Linked DNA regions of Homo sapiens: all the other regions are linked to region 3. Evidence: fine-mapped expression QTL. A gene starts in region 3. Each other region holds a variant in brackets. All regions are shown on one strand. Distances are from middle to middle. Region 1 overlaps CACNA1H (calcium voltage-gated channel subunit alpha1 H). Region 2 overlaps CACNA1H (calcium voltage-gated channel subunit alpha1 H). Region 3 holds the start of CACNA1H (calcium voltage-gated channel subunit alpha1 H).

Region 1 (4,908 bases), 43 kb after region 3:
GAGCGTGGCCCGTGTTGGGCAGGGGGCGCTGCTGCCACCATCATCCGGGTCCCAAGCAGGCCTGCCAGGGGTGAGGGGGAGCCGTGGGCGCTGAGGCCTGTGGTCTGCGCCAGGTGGGTGCTGGGAAGGGCGGCCCCCGAGAGTCAAGCACAGGCCCAAGTCCAGAGCCAGGGGTGGGGGCGGCCACCGGGCTGCCCCTGAATCAGCTGTGAGAGGATGCCCAGCTCTGTCTCCTCCTCGGTTCCCACGTGTTGGTGACGGCAGGGACTGTCAGAGCTGGTGCCTGACTTCCCAAGGCTGTTCGCTGACAAGTTGGTGCTTTCCAAATGCCGGCTTCTACCTTAAGGAAGGTCCCTCCTGGGTCCACAGTCAGCTGACGGATTGCCTCTCCCTCCTTCCTCTGGTTCCCTGGTCAGGGTGGGGCCGCGCAGCCCTGGGACAGGGGCCCTGGAAAGTCTGCCCCGAGTTGTGCCACCGTCCAGGCCTGGAGGGTGGGACGGGGAGTCCTGTCCGGTGGGTTGCATGGCGGTGCCCCGACATTCCCCCTGCCCTGGGGCCCTCCCAGTTGCACAGGGTGCCCTGCCTACAGCCCCCCAGCGCGGGAGCCCTATGCAACCTGGGCCCCATGTGGGCAGCTAGGCCCTGGGAGTCTGAGTGGCCCTCACTGGGGCCTCACTACCGATGCGGCCAGCCCACCGAGGGCTCCTGCACCCCGCTTTCCTGATGAGCCAACGCCGAGGGCCAGGGGGCCGGGCCTGGGACCCTCACGGAGCAGAGCCCGGCCAGGCGCAGGCCCCAGGCGCCACCTGGTGGCTGCTTTCAGGAGGGGCGGCCGTCGGTCCCGAGTCCCCCACCCCATCCTGGACACCCCCACGCGCGCACACCCGTGGCGGGGCTCCGGCTGACCGGGTGGGCATTTGGAGGGCCCCATGGGAGCGGGTCCCGGGCCGCGCCGGTGTGCTCCTTAACCCGCGGCGACACATGGTTCGAGCACGTGAGCATGCTGGTAATCATGCTCAACTGCGTGACCCTGGGCATGTTCCGGCCCTGTGAGGACGTTGAGTGCGGCTCCGAGCGCTGCAACATCCTGGAGGTGAGGGGCGTGGGTCGGGGTGGGGAAGGAGCGTGGGTCGCTACGAGGTTTATGGTTCAAGGCGGAGTGGGGCGGGGGCGGGGCAAGGTTCAAGGTGGGGCGTGGAGTGGGTCAGGGTCGGGGATCAGGGCGAGGTTCACGGCGGGGCGCGAGGTGGGGCTGGGGGTGGGGCAGGGCGAGAGGCGAGGTTCAAGGCGAGGCAGGGCTCAGTTCCTGGGGCTCAGGGCGGGGCAGGGGCGGGGCGAGGGGTGTGGCAAGACTGGGGGCCGGGCTCTTGCGGGGCTGGGGTTGGGGGTTGTGGGCTGAGCTGAGCTGTTCCACGGGCCCTCCTGATGCCTCCTCCCGCAGGCCTTTGACGCCTTCATTTTCGCCTTTTTTGCGGTGGAGATGGTCATCAAGATGGTGGCCTTGGGGCTGTTCGGGCAGAAGTGTTACCTGGGTGACACGTGGAACAGGCTGGATTTCTTCATCGTCGTGGCGGGGTAGGCCCCGCCTGGGAGAGGCCACAGCGCTGGCGAAGGGGCCCCGCCCACCCCACAGGGATCCCTGTGTCCCACCTGTAAAGAAAAATGGGAGGTGTGTTCTAGAGGGATCCAGGTAGAGCCAGGGACCCTGTCTGGGACTCCGGAGACCCTCCCTCCTGGGCACAGGTGAGGGAGGTGGCCTCCTGATGTGACCAAGCGTTGTGCTCCTGCTACCTCGGGGCCCTTCCTGGCCAGTACAAGGTCCTCCGGGTGCCGGGCTGGCCGGTTCTATGCCTGCCCACCCTACTTTGCACCCCAGCCCCACCCTGGACCACCTGGGCTCCTTGTTGAGCTGCTCCCCCTCGGCCCCGCCCCCAGCATGATGGAGTACTCGTTGGACGGACACAACGTGAGCCTCTCGGCTATCAGGACCGTGCGGGTGCTGCGGCCCCTCCGCGCCATCAACCGCGTGCCTAGTAAGTGACCGGCCCCGACTGGGCTTGAGATCAACAGGCTTGCGTGTCCGCCAGCCCTGCAGAGCTCTCAAAAGGGCCCCCAGGAGCACAGGACTGGGAAATGAAGGTTACCAGGCACTCCGGCCCCAGCCCAGACCCCAGCAGTGGGGTGGCCCCTGCCGCTATCCGTGGGCCTTGCATGTCAGGGGAGAATCAAGCTGCGGTGTGGTGGGCAGTCAGCATTCACAGGGTACCTGGCTCCCACACAGCCGAGTGACAGGGGCCACTCCGAACCTCCGGTTCCTTCTCTGCATGGCATCTGGGGCAAGGCTGGAGGCCGAGCAGATCCCTGGTGGCTTTGCTGTCTGGCGCATCCTGGTGTGGCTCGTGGTGGAGACACTCTTGTGGGTGTGGCTCAGCTCACCTGGGGGCTCTGTGAAGCCCCGCCTTCACACCCACACAAGTGAGGGGAGAGCCTGACACCTGTCCTGAGGACACCTCGCTCTCCCCACCCGCCACTGCTTCTGGCCCCTACTCTCCTGCCAGGATCCCCACCTAAGGAAAGGGGAAGTTGGCTGGCCAGGGCTGGGCCTCCGTGTCCCCTGCTGAGCAGCTGATTTTCTAGAAGGAAGGCTGGAAATCCTTCAGGATTTGGCCAGCAGGTGTGAGGAGGGGGCCTGGTGGAGAGGAGCTGCTGTGTGTCTGCTGTGCGCTGGGTGTGAGGGGAGGCGGAGGAAGAGCTTC[C/A]AGGAAGTCATATGCCTGCTTGTTTGGGAAACATCCTGTCAAATCCGGGCCACCCACCTGCATCAGGGGATGGGGTGGGATCGTTCTTTAAGCACTCAGGGCTACATTCAACTGCTCTGGTTCCTGGGGGTCGGCGCGGCCCCCACGAGGCCGTACCAGGCGCGAGTGCATACTGCGTGTAGATGTGGCCCCGTGTGTGCACGTGCGGGTGTAACACAGCCTTTCTGGCTGCCTGACCTGGGTCCTGGTGGCCTTGGCACTCAGGGCTTGACCTGCAGCAACCCCCCAAAGTCACAGACCCCCAAGGCTAGGCACTCCTTCCCATGGGGCCTCTGGCTTCCCGAAGGGCAGGTGGGTCATCCTCGTGCCGCTGGTCCCTGAGCCTGCCTTCCACCTGCCTGCCTTGGCTCTACTGTGTGGCTCAGATAGGGCTTGAATACTGTGTGACTCTGAGCAACTAGCTGAGCCTGAACCTCAGTTTCTCCTGGAATAGTGCAGTACAGGAGTAACCATGACCCCAAGGGTGGCTGAGCGTGCGGTGAGGGGACGCGTGTGTGGCTCTTGGCCCTTTGCCCGGCACCCACTGTACGTTCAGTCTGCACGCCGGCCTGGCCCCACCTGTTGAAGCGTGAAGCAACCCAGCACACACAGCCCCTTCCTTCCATGGATGTTTACTTTTCAGGTTAAATTGCCAGAGTGGCCCTAATTGTCGCCAGCAGCCTGGCCTCCTGGGGATCTGCTCCTGTCTCTAGGAGAGAACTAGGGAACTCTTCCAGACTGGATAATACGCTTCTCATAATGAGGACACGCTCAGGGCTGCATCCTGTTCTGTTGGCTAGGGGTCCACTCTGACCTCTGGGTCATCTGTGATCTTTGAGGCGGTTGCGGTCTGGCCAGGGCAGTGCTCACTGATTGTCTGCTCCGGTCGGCTCTTTTGACACTTCAGTGCTCCTCCTGGCTCTGACTCACCCTTGTGACCTGAGGGGCCCGTTTTGCCATTGATACCCCTGGGTGCTGGGTGAGAACTCAGCGTCCCCAGGTTCCTGGCCCAGGGCTTTACCTGCTGCCTTAGCCTGGCCCTTGATTAAATTTGAGGGAAAGGACGTCTTGGGGGAGCAGGCCCAGGATGGAGCGAGGGGCGCGTGGGGCTTGGCTGACCCACTTGCTGGATTAATCTGGAGTTCACGTAGCCCATAGCACCCAGGACCGATGGCTTCAGTGCTACCTCCTGAAAAGCCGCTGCCGGTCCTCCCCACCGCCTCCAGCAGCCTCTCTCTGAGATGGGGCTCTGTTCTGGCAGGATTCTCACTGGGAATCAGACAAAGTTTTCAGGATCCCAGACCTGCTGCAGAGACCCCCAGGAGGCAGCCCACCACCTGAGGTTCTGGGGCTCCCAAGGCTCCTGCTGCCTTGGTGGCAACTTCAGGGTGTCGCCAGACAAGCCTCGAGGGCCACTGGGCTCCGCCTGGTCATCCCGAGCCCGAGATGCCACGTGGTCAGACCTGCCGCAGCCAGTTCCCTGCCTCGGCCAGTCCCCTGCCTCCACTCCTGCCCCTCCACACCCCAGCCCTCCAAAAGCAGCAGACCTGCTGCCCTGGGATGGTTGGAGGTGGAGACCTGGCGCCCCGCTGGATGCACGTCAGACCCCAGGGTGTCAGTGTCCCTGGAGGCCGGTGGTGGTAGGAGGGGAGTCCCGATCACACTAGGGGTGCGGGAAAATCACCAGGGGGTGGCCCGAGTCAGTGTGCAGTGGGCGTGGACACCCACTGTGAACAGTGGACGGGGCTCGGGGGTCCCGGGAGGGGCTGCAGCCCCGAGGACACTCCTGCAGGGCTTAGCAGTGCCAATCCTGGCCCTGCTGCCCACAGGCATGCGGATCCTGGTCACTCTGCTGCTGGATACGCTGCCCATGCTCGGGAACGTCCTTCTGCTGTGCTTCTTCGTCTTCTTCATTTTCGGCATCGTTGGCGTCCAGCTCTGGGCTGGCCTCCTGCGGAACCGCTGCTTCCTGGACAGTGCCTTTGTCAGGTGCCCAGGCCCCACCCCCGTGAGGCCCCTGCCCAGATGGCCCTGCCCACCATGCAGATAACGCACCATGTGGCTCCACCGCCCCACGTGGCTCTGCCCACCGTGCAGTCACCCGCCCCGCCAC
Region 2 (4,068 bases), 55 kb after region 3:
TGGCAGGGGTCAGAGATGGGCCGCCAGGTGGACAAGCTGGGGATTTACTCAAGAGCAGAATACCGGGGGTGGGGGCAGGCACCAGGCTCCAACTGGGGTGTTCTGAGCGCCTGCTGTGTGCCCGTCTAGCCTGGAGCTCAGGGTCAGGGTCGGCTGGAGGCTAGGCAGCCAGGCAGGCCGGGCTTTCACAGTCCAGAGAGGCTGAATGAGGCAGGTGTCCCAGGTTCCAGTTGCCACCCAAATCCAGAGTGGCTTCCCTCTGTCTGTCCCGCCTCTGGTCTTGGTTCTCTCGCCTGTGGAATGGACACTACTGAGTTGTAGGGCAGGAAGTCCCTTTTAAGCTAGAGAGCTCGGGCGCCCAGGGAGGGTAGGAGGCCAGGAGAGCCAAGACGGGCAGAGCCAGTCCTGCCCCTCCCTCCTCCCACCCCCCTCCCGCTCCCCCACCTTCTTCCGCTCAGCACACCCCTGCCTCCACCCTCAACACGCCCCTGCCCCCACCCTCAGCATCCTGGGCATGCACCTTTTCGGCTGCAAGTTCAGCCTGAAGACAGACACCGGAGACACCGTGCCTGACAGGAAGAACTTCGACTCCCTGCTGTGGGCCATCGTCACCGTGTTCCAGGTAGTGCCCGGGGTCCCCGCAGCAGTGTTGGGTGCTGAGTGTGGTCCCCAGAGAGGTGGAGGTGCCGTCCTGCGCATCCATAGCTGCCTCTGCCCCAAGGACTTGCCGGCATTTCGGGGCTGGGGTGACCACCCCAGGCCCCCTGCTATCCCCCAGATCCTGACCCAGGAGGACTGGAACGTGGTCCTGTACAACGGCATGGCCTCCACCTCCTCCTGGGCCGCCCTCTACTTCGTGGCCCTCATGACCTTCGGCAACTATGTGCTCTTCAACCTGCTGGTGGCCATCCTCGTGGAGGGCTTCCAGGCGGAGGTGAGGGGGCAGGGAGAGGGGCTGCCAGGAGGAGGGCGATGAGAAGAGAGACGGGCTTCAGGTCGAGGGGAGGGGTGTGGGGGGCCTGCCAAGAGGTGAGGGATAGAGAAGGGAAGCTGGCTGCCATGAGGAGAGGGGAGGCCAGGAGCCCAGCGGAGTGGGCAGGGGTCGGTCGGGAGAGGCAGATTCCTCACCTACCTGCCCACCCTGGCAGTGACATCATCCTCTGGGCCCTTCTGTCCACACCCCACCTCCCAGGCCAGCCCAGACTTCTGTCCGGCATGAAGGGTCCCCACTCACGGGGCCCCTCATGCCTGCCTTGTGCTTTGTTGGGTTTAGGGCGATGCCAACAGATCCGACACGGACGAGGACAAGACGTCGGTCCACTTCGAGGAGGACTTCCACAAGCTCAGAGAACTCCAGACCACAGGTGCGTGTGGTCGGTGGGTGGTCCGGGTTCTGGCGGGTGGAGTACGCTGGGCTGGCCGGGCAGGGCCCCCATAAGGCAATCCCTAGGTTGGGGGATTCCTGGTCCTGGGAGCCTGGCAGCTCTAGGGGCCCATTCCTCCCTCTGTCCCGCAGAGCTGAAGATGTGTTCCCTGGCCGTGACCCCCAACGGGCACCTGGAGGGACGAGGCAGCCTGTCCCCTCCCCTCATCATGTGCACAGCTGCCACGCCCATGCCTACCCCCAAGAGCTCACCATTCCTGGATGCAGCCCCCAGCCTCCCAGACTCTCGGCGTGGCAGCAGCAGCTCCGGGGACCCGCCACTGGGAGACCAGAAGCCTCCGGTAGGGACCATCTCCTGCCCCAGCTCTCAGGCCCCTTCAGGTTTTCCCTGCCTGGCTCCTTATGGCCTTCCCTGAAGATGAGTGAGGGCC[G/A]CACCCCCCACACCCTTGAAGTCCCAGCCTGTGCAGAGACTGAGAAAGAGTGTTCTGGTTTCCGGAAATGGAAGCTGTGGCTGCTGTTGTGTGAGGCCGGTGTGAAGGGGCAGACGCGGAAGCTCTGTGCGCCCAACAGTCTAGCAGAGTGCACAGCGCACAGCACAGAAAGACCGAAGCAAGCAGGGGCAGAAGCGTGCCCGGCAAGCAGACGGCAGGCCAGGCGGGGGTTCCGCTGCCACCAGAAGCAGCCCGATTCCCTTTACGGCCAGGGCATCTCTCTGGGTCCAGGGGGACTGGAGGGGAGCAGTTTTGAAACGAACTCCAGGCAGTACCACCCACAACAGACACGGAGGATGGGAGTGAGCCAGACGCCCTAGCAGGGGAGGAAGCGGGGCAGCTGTGAGGCAGAGCCGCAGGCCCAGTGTGCTCCTGGGGACACGGGGGCCACCCACACTTTGTCTGGTCCTGGGCTGGTTCTGGCCCCTGACCCAGCAGAGCCCAGGGCATCACCCCCGCGAGGCGGACACCCTGACCCTCATGAGCTACGCCTGTGGCTGGCTCGGTGTCCCCCTAAAATCACAGCCTCCACCGTGCCTCCCTGGCGGGGCTATGCATTAAATGATCCACGTGTGGCTTGCACACAGTGGGTGCTCCGTAATGACAGCGGTCGGTGCTAATAGTGATGCCACCAGGTCACTGACTCCCGCCACCCCCCAGGCCAGCCTCCGAAGTTCTCCCTGTGCCCCCTGGGGCCCCAGTGGCGCCTGGAGCAGCCGGCGCTCCAGCTGGAGCAGCCTGGGCCGTGCCCCCAGCCTCAAGCGCCGCGGCCAGTGTGGGGAACGTGAGTCCCTGCTGTCTGGCGAGGGCAAGGGCAGCACCGACGACGAAGCTGAGGACGGCAGGGCCGCGCCCGGGCCCCGTGCCACCCCACTGCGGCGGGCCGAGTCCCTGGACCCACGGCCCCTGCGGCCGGCCGCCCTCCCGCCTACCAAGTGCCGCGATCGCGACGGGCAGGTGGTGGCCCTGCCCAGCGACTTCTTCCTGCGCATCGACAGCCACCGTGAGGATGCAGCCGAGCTTGACGACGACTCGGAGGACGTGAGTGCGTGGCCCTGGGCCCACCGCCGACTCGCCTTCGTCTGTCTGGGGCAGGTTCCCTCAAGTGGGGTTTGAGATGGGATTCAGGGCGTGTTGTTGACTGAGGGGATTCAGAAGGGGAGAGAAGCAGGCCAGGCCAGGGAGGAATCCAGCAGTGTTCAGGGATTCAGCCACAGATGATCCCAGAGTCCCCCCTCTGCCGTCTAGGGGCTGTGAGCTAAACGCTCCACGCACGGCCTGCATACGGGGGCTGGGCTCTGCGCCGTGGGTCAGCCACTGGCCGAGAGCTGCTGCCGAGGCAGGGCCAGGCATCCGCTAGGCTCTCAGGCTTCCGTGGGTCAAGGACCACTCCCAGAGTCAGGGACCCAAGAGCACCCGCTCACCTGGCCCCGTGGACTCCAGCACGGGTCACTCTGCCGTCACCAGCGTAGGGAAGGGGGAGGCTCCACGGTATGGGCCCCAGAGGCCAGAAAGCCAGAGCCCAAAGGCCAGCGGGTGAGGAGTGAGGATGGAGAAGGCTGAGAAGGTGCTGGGAGGGGTGGCCGAGCTGAGCACAGAGGGCCCTGATGGGGGGCCGGGCAGGCAGGCGCAGGCTCTGAGAAGCCGCCGCCTCATCCCACAGAGCTGCTGCCTCCGCCTGCATAAAGTGCTGGAGCCCTACAAGCCCCAGTGGTGCCGGAGCCGCGAGGCCTGGGCCCTCTACCTCTTCTCCCCACAGAACCGGTGAGGCGGCCGGGTCAGGAGGCTGCATGGCTAGTTCCACCCCACGGGACCCCCGCCCCCAGGTCCCTCCTGGGTGGGGCTAGCACATGGTGGATATTTCCGAGTGGGCACCCCTTCTCACACCGCAGGGACCGGGGCTGAAGTGGAGGCGTGGCCAGGGCTGTCCTGCAACCCCCATCCACTCTGCCATCCACGCCGCCCCGCCCCACCTCTCACCCGCCCCCGCCCACCCAGGTTCCGCGTCTCCTGCCAGAAGGTCATCACACACAAGATGTTTGATCACGTGGTCCTCGTCTTCATCTTCCTCAACTGCGTCACCATCGCCCTGGAGAGGCCTGACATTGATCCCGGCAGCACCGTGAGTCAGCCAACCCCATCGTCCCGGGCCACCACGACCCCCAGGGAGGGGTGGAGTGGACACAGCCCCCC
Region 3 (4,908 bases):
AGGCCCCGCCCTCGTCTATCTGGGCGCCCCCTGGCACTTAGTTTGGAAACTGTTTTCTCCTCCCCATAAGACGGAAGCTGCAGGCATGAGAACCGGGTCTGTCTGGTCACAGCCAAGGCACCTCCACCCTCCAACCGGGCCCCGCGCACTGTCCACCCTCAACTACCATTTGTCCAGCAAATCAACGACAGCCCCCAGCTAGAATCTGGAGCTTCAGTCTGTGGCTTTGCCTTAGCTTTAATTAATTAATTAATTAACTTATTATTTTTTTGAGGCAGAGTCCACTCTGTCACCCAGGCTGGAGTGCAGTGGCGTGATCTCGGCTCACTGCAACCTCTGCCTCCTGGGTTCAAGTGATTCTCCTCCCTCAGCATCCCGAGTAGCGGGGATTACAGGCATATGTCACCATGCCTGGCTAATTTTTGTATTTTAGTAGAGACGGGATTTCACCATGTTGGTCAGGCTGGTCTCGAACTCCTGACCTCAAGTGATCCACACACCTCGGCCTCCCAAAGTGCTGGGATTACAGGCGTGAGCCACTGCACCTGGCCCACCCTAACTTTTAACGAGCAGGGTGTTGATAAAAAGATCAGAGGTTCCAAGTGCCCTCTGGACCGGACTCCGATTCAGCGTTTGTGTCTCCCCACCTGCTCCAGCCTCCCTCCACGGATGTGTCCAAAGCACGGGGCTCTCCTAGGTCCTGCTCCTCTGTGGCTGGAACCTTAATTGGACCTTTGAAGGCCTAATTCACCAGCTGTGGCCCTCCATCGCTGAGTAGTTGCATTAAAATAGACTGAATGTTTTCCTTTTCTTGAAAGTTCCCGTATACAGGAGGAGGTGCTGCTGAAAGGACCTGTACCCCAGCCAGGCCCCCACACTCCTGCCTTCCAGTTCCTCGGCCCACCCCAGGTGCTGTGTGTCCTTCCGGGCCCCAGCTGGGCAGGGCCTCTTCTTCACCCTGCACGATGTGGCCCACCCGGGGGAGGTCCTGCTTCTCTGCTGCTCACCCGCAGGTGGGAAGCCACAGCCGCCCCACAGCCTCTCCGGGTCTGGGGTCTCAGGGTGCGCCCTGGAGCAGGGCCTCTTTGTCTGGAGGGAGAAGGGGTCTCTCCCACTACCAGGGGCCCCTTGTTGGCGGGCGTGCTGAGGTGCACACCTGGGAGCTCAAGCTCCCTGGTGCACAAAGCAGTGGTCCCAGAAGCAAAACCACCCTTCCAGCCTGGAGGGGTGCCCTGGGGGGAGTCAGGAGCCTGGGCACCTGCCCCCACCTGCTGGCACCTCGAGGTGCGGCCAGCCCTCCCTGGGACAAGGGCCTGGCCATCCCCAATGTCTGAAGGGTCCACCCCTTCCCGACCAAACCACTTGCTCTGAGGGTCCAGGGGAAGGCCCTTCTGCTGGCCTGGCTGAAGGAGCAGCTGCTGGCAGGGGGAAGGGGCCTGCACTTCTCCTCGGGGGCCCCTGGGTGAGTCTCGCTGAGGCAGCGGGGTTGGAGGATGCAGGAGCACCAGGCTGCCGTCCCCAGGGTCCCCCAGATCCCCACGCGGGAGGGGACCGGAGACGAGGACAAGTTCGCGGAAACTGCCCGTGCGTGTCGGGGAGAGATGCGAGTGCAGGAGCGCCCAGCCGTAAAGCACACCCCCGCCCGCCCCCGCGCCCCATCACACACGCGCGCGCGGGCACACCCGGGACACACACGCGGCGGGGAAGGGGCACGCAGCCTCTCGCCTTCCACGCCCGCCCGGTCCCCGCCCCTCCGCCGACCCGGGCCCGCGTCGTAGTGGGGGTGGGGGTGGGGGCGGCGGCGGCGCGCGCGGCAGCGCGAAGGGGGAGGGGGAGCCGGAGCGGGAGGGGGAGGGGCGCGGCATCGGCGGCTCGGCCGCCCCCGCAGTTGGGGGCAGGGAAGGACGTAGGTGCTCCCCCTCCCACCCCGCCGGAGCCTCCCGCGAGCGCCCCCTGGTGCACCCCACGCCCGGCATTGTTGGGGAGCACGAAAAGCGGGGAGCCCAGTGCGGGGGCGTGGAGGGGGCGCGGGCGGGGTCCAACTTCCCGCACCCGGGGGGGGGCGGGGCGCCGGGCGGCGACAGGGAGGGGTCGCTCGGGCGCGCGCGTCTCGGGCCGGGGGCGGATCCTCCCCAGTACCCCCCCGCCCGCCCCGCCCCCGGCCCCGCCCCGGCCACGCTGGCCCCGCCCCGGTCGCGCCGGCCCCGCCCCGCCCCGCCCCCCGCCGCTCAGCCCGAAGTTTCCTGCGCCGCGCGCGGACGGGCTCGAGGCTCGCTCGCTGCCTCACCGGTCCCCGGCCCGCGCCCCGCGCCCCGCGCCCCGCGCCCCGGCCTCACCCGTCCGCTCAGCGGCCTCCACGCCGCGCCGAGGCCGCCGCCGTCGCCTCCGCCGGGCGAGCCGGAGCCGGAGTCGAGCCGCGGCCGGGAGCCGGGCGGGCTGGGGACGCGGGCCGGGGGCGGAGGCGCTGGGGGCCGGGGCCGGGGCCGGGGGCGGAGGCGCTGGGGGCCGGGGCCGGGGCCGGGCGCCGAGCGGGGTCCGCGGTGACCGCGCCGCCCGGGCGATGCCCGCGGGGACGCCGCCGGCCAGCAGAGCGAGGTGAGACGCGGCGAGGACGCGCGCCCGGGACCCTCTTCAACTTGCGCGAAGCGGGCCGGGGAGCCCCTCGGGGTGGGGGTGGGGCCGCTGGAGGGAGGGAGGGGGCGGGCGGGGGCGGGGGGCGCGTTTGTCTCTAATAAGAAAAGACAAAGACATCCCGGCGGCCGCGGCTGTTCCCGCAGCTCCGCGCCGCGGGAGGCAGGGCGGGGGCGTCGCCACCGGCCCCGGGTCACCCCCTGTCCTCTGCAGGTGCTGCCGGCCGCCACCATGACCGAGGGCGCACGGGCCGCCGACGAGGTCCGGGTGCCCCTGGGCGCGCCGCCCCCTGGCCCTGCGGCGTTGGTGGGGGCGTCCCCGGAGAGCCCCGGGGCGCCGGGACGCGAGGCGGAGCGGGGGTCCGAGCTCGGCGTGTCACCCTCCGAGAGCCCGGCGGCCGAGCGCGGCGCGGAGCTGGGTGCCGACGAGGAGCAGCGCGTCCCGTACCCGGCCTTGGCGGCCACGGTCTTCTTCTGCCTCGGTCAGACCACGCGGCCGCGCAGCTGGTGCCTCCGGCTGGTCTGCAACCCATATCCTTCCCGGCCGGCGGGGGGCGGGGGGCGGGGGGCGTGGGGAGGGTGGGGGCCCGGGGCGCGGGACTCCCTCGGCATGCGCCCCCGCGCGCCCCTGTTGGTGGGACCTGGCGTGGGCCGGGCGCGCGGGGGTGCAGGGCAGGGGCTGGAGGACCGCGCTCTAATTTCTGAGAGTGGCGGGCTTGGGGGGCCACCGGGCGCCTCCGGACTCCCTTCCCCAGGGCCGGCTCCGGACGGAGAAGGTGGAAGCGAAGCGGTGAGGCCCCCGCGGGCTTGGAGGGGAGAGGAGTCGGGGAGGGAGGGAAGGTCCTAACTCCTCGCGGCCCCAAGGGTGTTGGCCAGGACGGGAATTTCCCCCTTGCCCACCCCTCACTGTCTGAAGGTCCTGCCCGAGGCAGGCCCCTCGCGGGGGAGGGGGAGGCCAGAGGAGCTGGAGTCAGGGGCGCAAAGTTTTCAGCCGGCGCCTGGTGGTTCCGAGTGCGTGGGGAGACCCGTGGGGCCTGTGAGCGCCGCCAGGGCCTTTTCCGTGGAGAGAGGCGGTGACGTTGGTTGTGAACTCGCTTTTTCTGGCTGAACTCGGTGGCGGGGCTGACTTAAGTCATGCGCAGCTGAAGGGTAGGGGGCAGGGAGGCAATTGGCACTGCCAAGGGGGAGTCTCATCTCCCCAGCCCCTTCCCTGGCTGGAGAGGAAGAGGCAGCCTCTTCTACTCTCGGCCAGAGCGGCACAGACTGCAGAGAAGGTTCCAGAACAGAGTTGGGTCAGGGCCAGGGGCATTTGTGGGATGTACACGGAGGTCCAGGGGGCCCCCCAGCAGGTGGCCTTGGGGGCGGGTCTCCGCGTGCCCTGAGAAGGGCCTTGCGTGGTGCCTGTGTCAGGGCCGGGTCTCCCCACCGGCCCTTCTGAGCCGGCAGCTGGGGTGGCCAGGCCGTGGCTTCTGCTCCGGGCCTGGGGACGGGTGGAGAGACCCTGCCCGCAGACGTCCCCCGTCGGAGGTGGGGAGACAGGCTGGCAGCAGGAGCGGCCTGTGTACACTTCCCTACCTTGTGTGTTTAACTGTACAAATATTAAACACGAAAGAGGAATCTGTACAAAAAAAGTCATAAAGCCCGTGTTTCTCCTTTCTCAAATCCAAACATCGAGTGAGTCAGACTCATCTCTGCTTGTAGAGGAAGAGGAGGCTGCTGTGGTCCCGGGGGCAGCCGGCCCCGGCCAGAGGGCTGCCTCGGAGCCCCACACCCGCTGCCCGGGCGGCCTAGGCCTCTGTAGCCTCAGGGTGGTGTCTGCGAGTAGGTGGGTGTCCCCGGGAGCCGAGGTGCAGGCCCGGCCTTGAAGAGCGGTTGTAGGTTTGTCTCCTCTCTAGAACCAAGGCGGGAGGTGGTCATGCCCCTTTGTTCTGGTAGGAGGTGACTGGGTGTGGGGTTAGTCCGGCGGTGCCAGCAGGCCATGGGGAAGGGTCTGGAAGGGACTGCATGGGTTGGAATGGGAGGCTGGCCCCGAGCCAAGGCCTGCGTTCCTTGTTTCCCAACGTGTGCAGACCGGAGAAGGGAAAGAGTTGAGCAAGCCTGGACTCTCTCCTCACAGCCCCGGGCCTGGCTGCCCCATCCCCAAGCAGGGCATGGACTCTCTTCACAGCCCCGGGCCTGGCTGTCCTGTCCCCTCTCGGCTGAGAGAGTTTTGGAGCCTGGCCCCGGTGTTCTGGGCTGGCTGTGTGTCTCAGGACTTCCAAGGAGGTTGTTTGCGTTG

What was found.
Region 1: its variant is fine-mapped to the expression of CACNA1H in whole blood (TOPMed, PIP above 0.99).
Region 2: its variant is fine-mapped to the expression of CACNA1H in whole blood (TOPMed, PIP above 0.99). The same link has a PIP of 0.9 or more in blood mononuclear cells.

The regions. Positions count from the first base shown.
Region 1 is chr16:1,193,991-1,198,898 of GRCh38, forward strand. It overlaps CACNA1H (calcium voltage-gated channel subunit alpha1 H), which reads left to right. Exons shown (of 35, transcript NM_021098.3): 3 at 982-1,093; 4 at 1,442-1,575; 5 at 1,936-2,033; 6 at 4,625-4,784. Among named protein-coding and RNA genes, the nearest start is that of TPSG1, 29 kb to the right of the region's middle. RefSeq lists enhancers at 4,029-4,588, 4,589-4,908. The variant C/A (reference allele first, on the strand shown) is at 2,757.
Region 2 is chr16:1,206,497-1,210,564 of GRCh38, forward strand. It overlaps CACNA1H (calcium voltage-gated channel subunit alpha1 H), which reads left to right. Exons shown (of 35, transcript NM_021098.3): 13 at 505-622; 14 at 779-934; 15 at 1,274-1,364; 16 at 1,517-1,725; 17 at 2,536-2,916; 18 at 3,539-3,639; 19 at 3,874-3,997. Among named protein-coding and RNA genes, the nearest start is that of TPSG1, 17 kb to the right of the region's middle. The variant G/A (reference allele first, on the strand shown) is at 1,816.
Region 3 is chr16:1,150,876-1,155,783 of GRCh38, forward strand. CACNA1H (calcium voltage-gated channel subunit alpha1 H) reads left to right here and starts at 2,231. Exons shown (of 35, transcript NM_021098.3): 1 at 2,231-2,595; 2 at 2,845-3,161. The coding sequence starts at 2,863. RefSeq lists enhancers at 1,130-1,710, 3,085-3,852.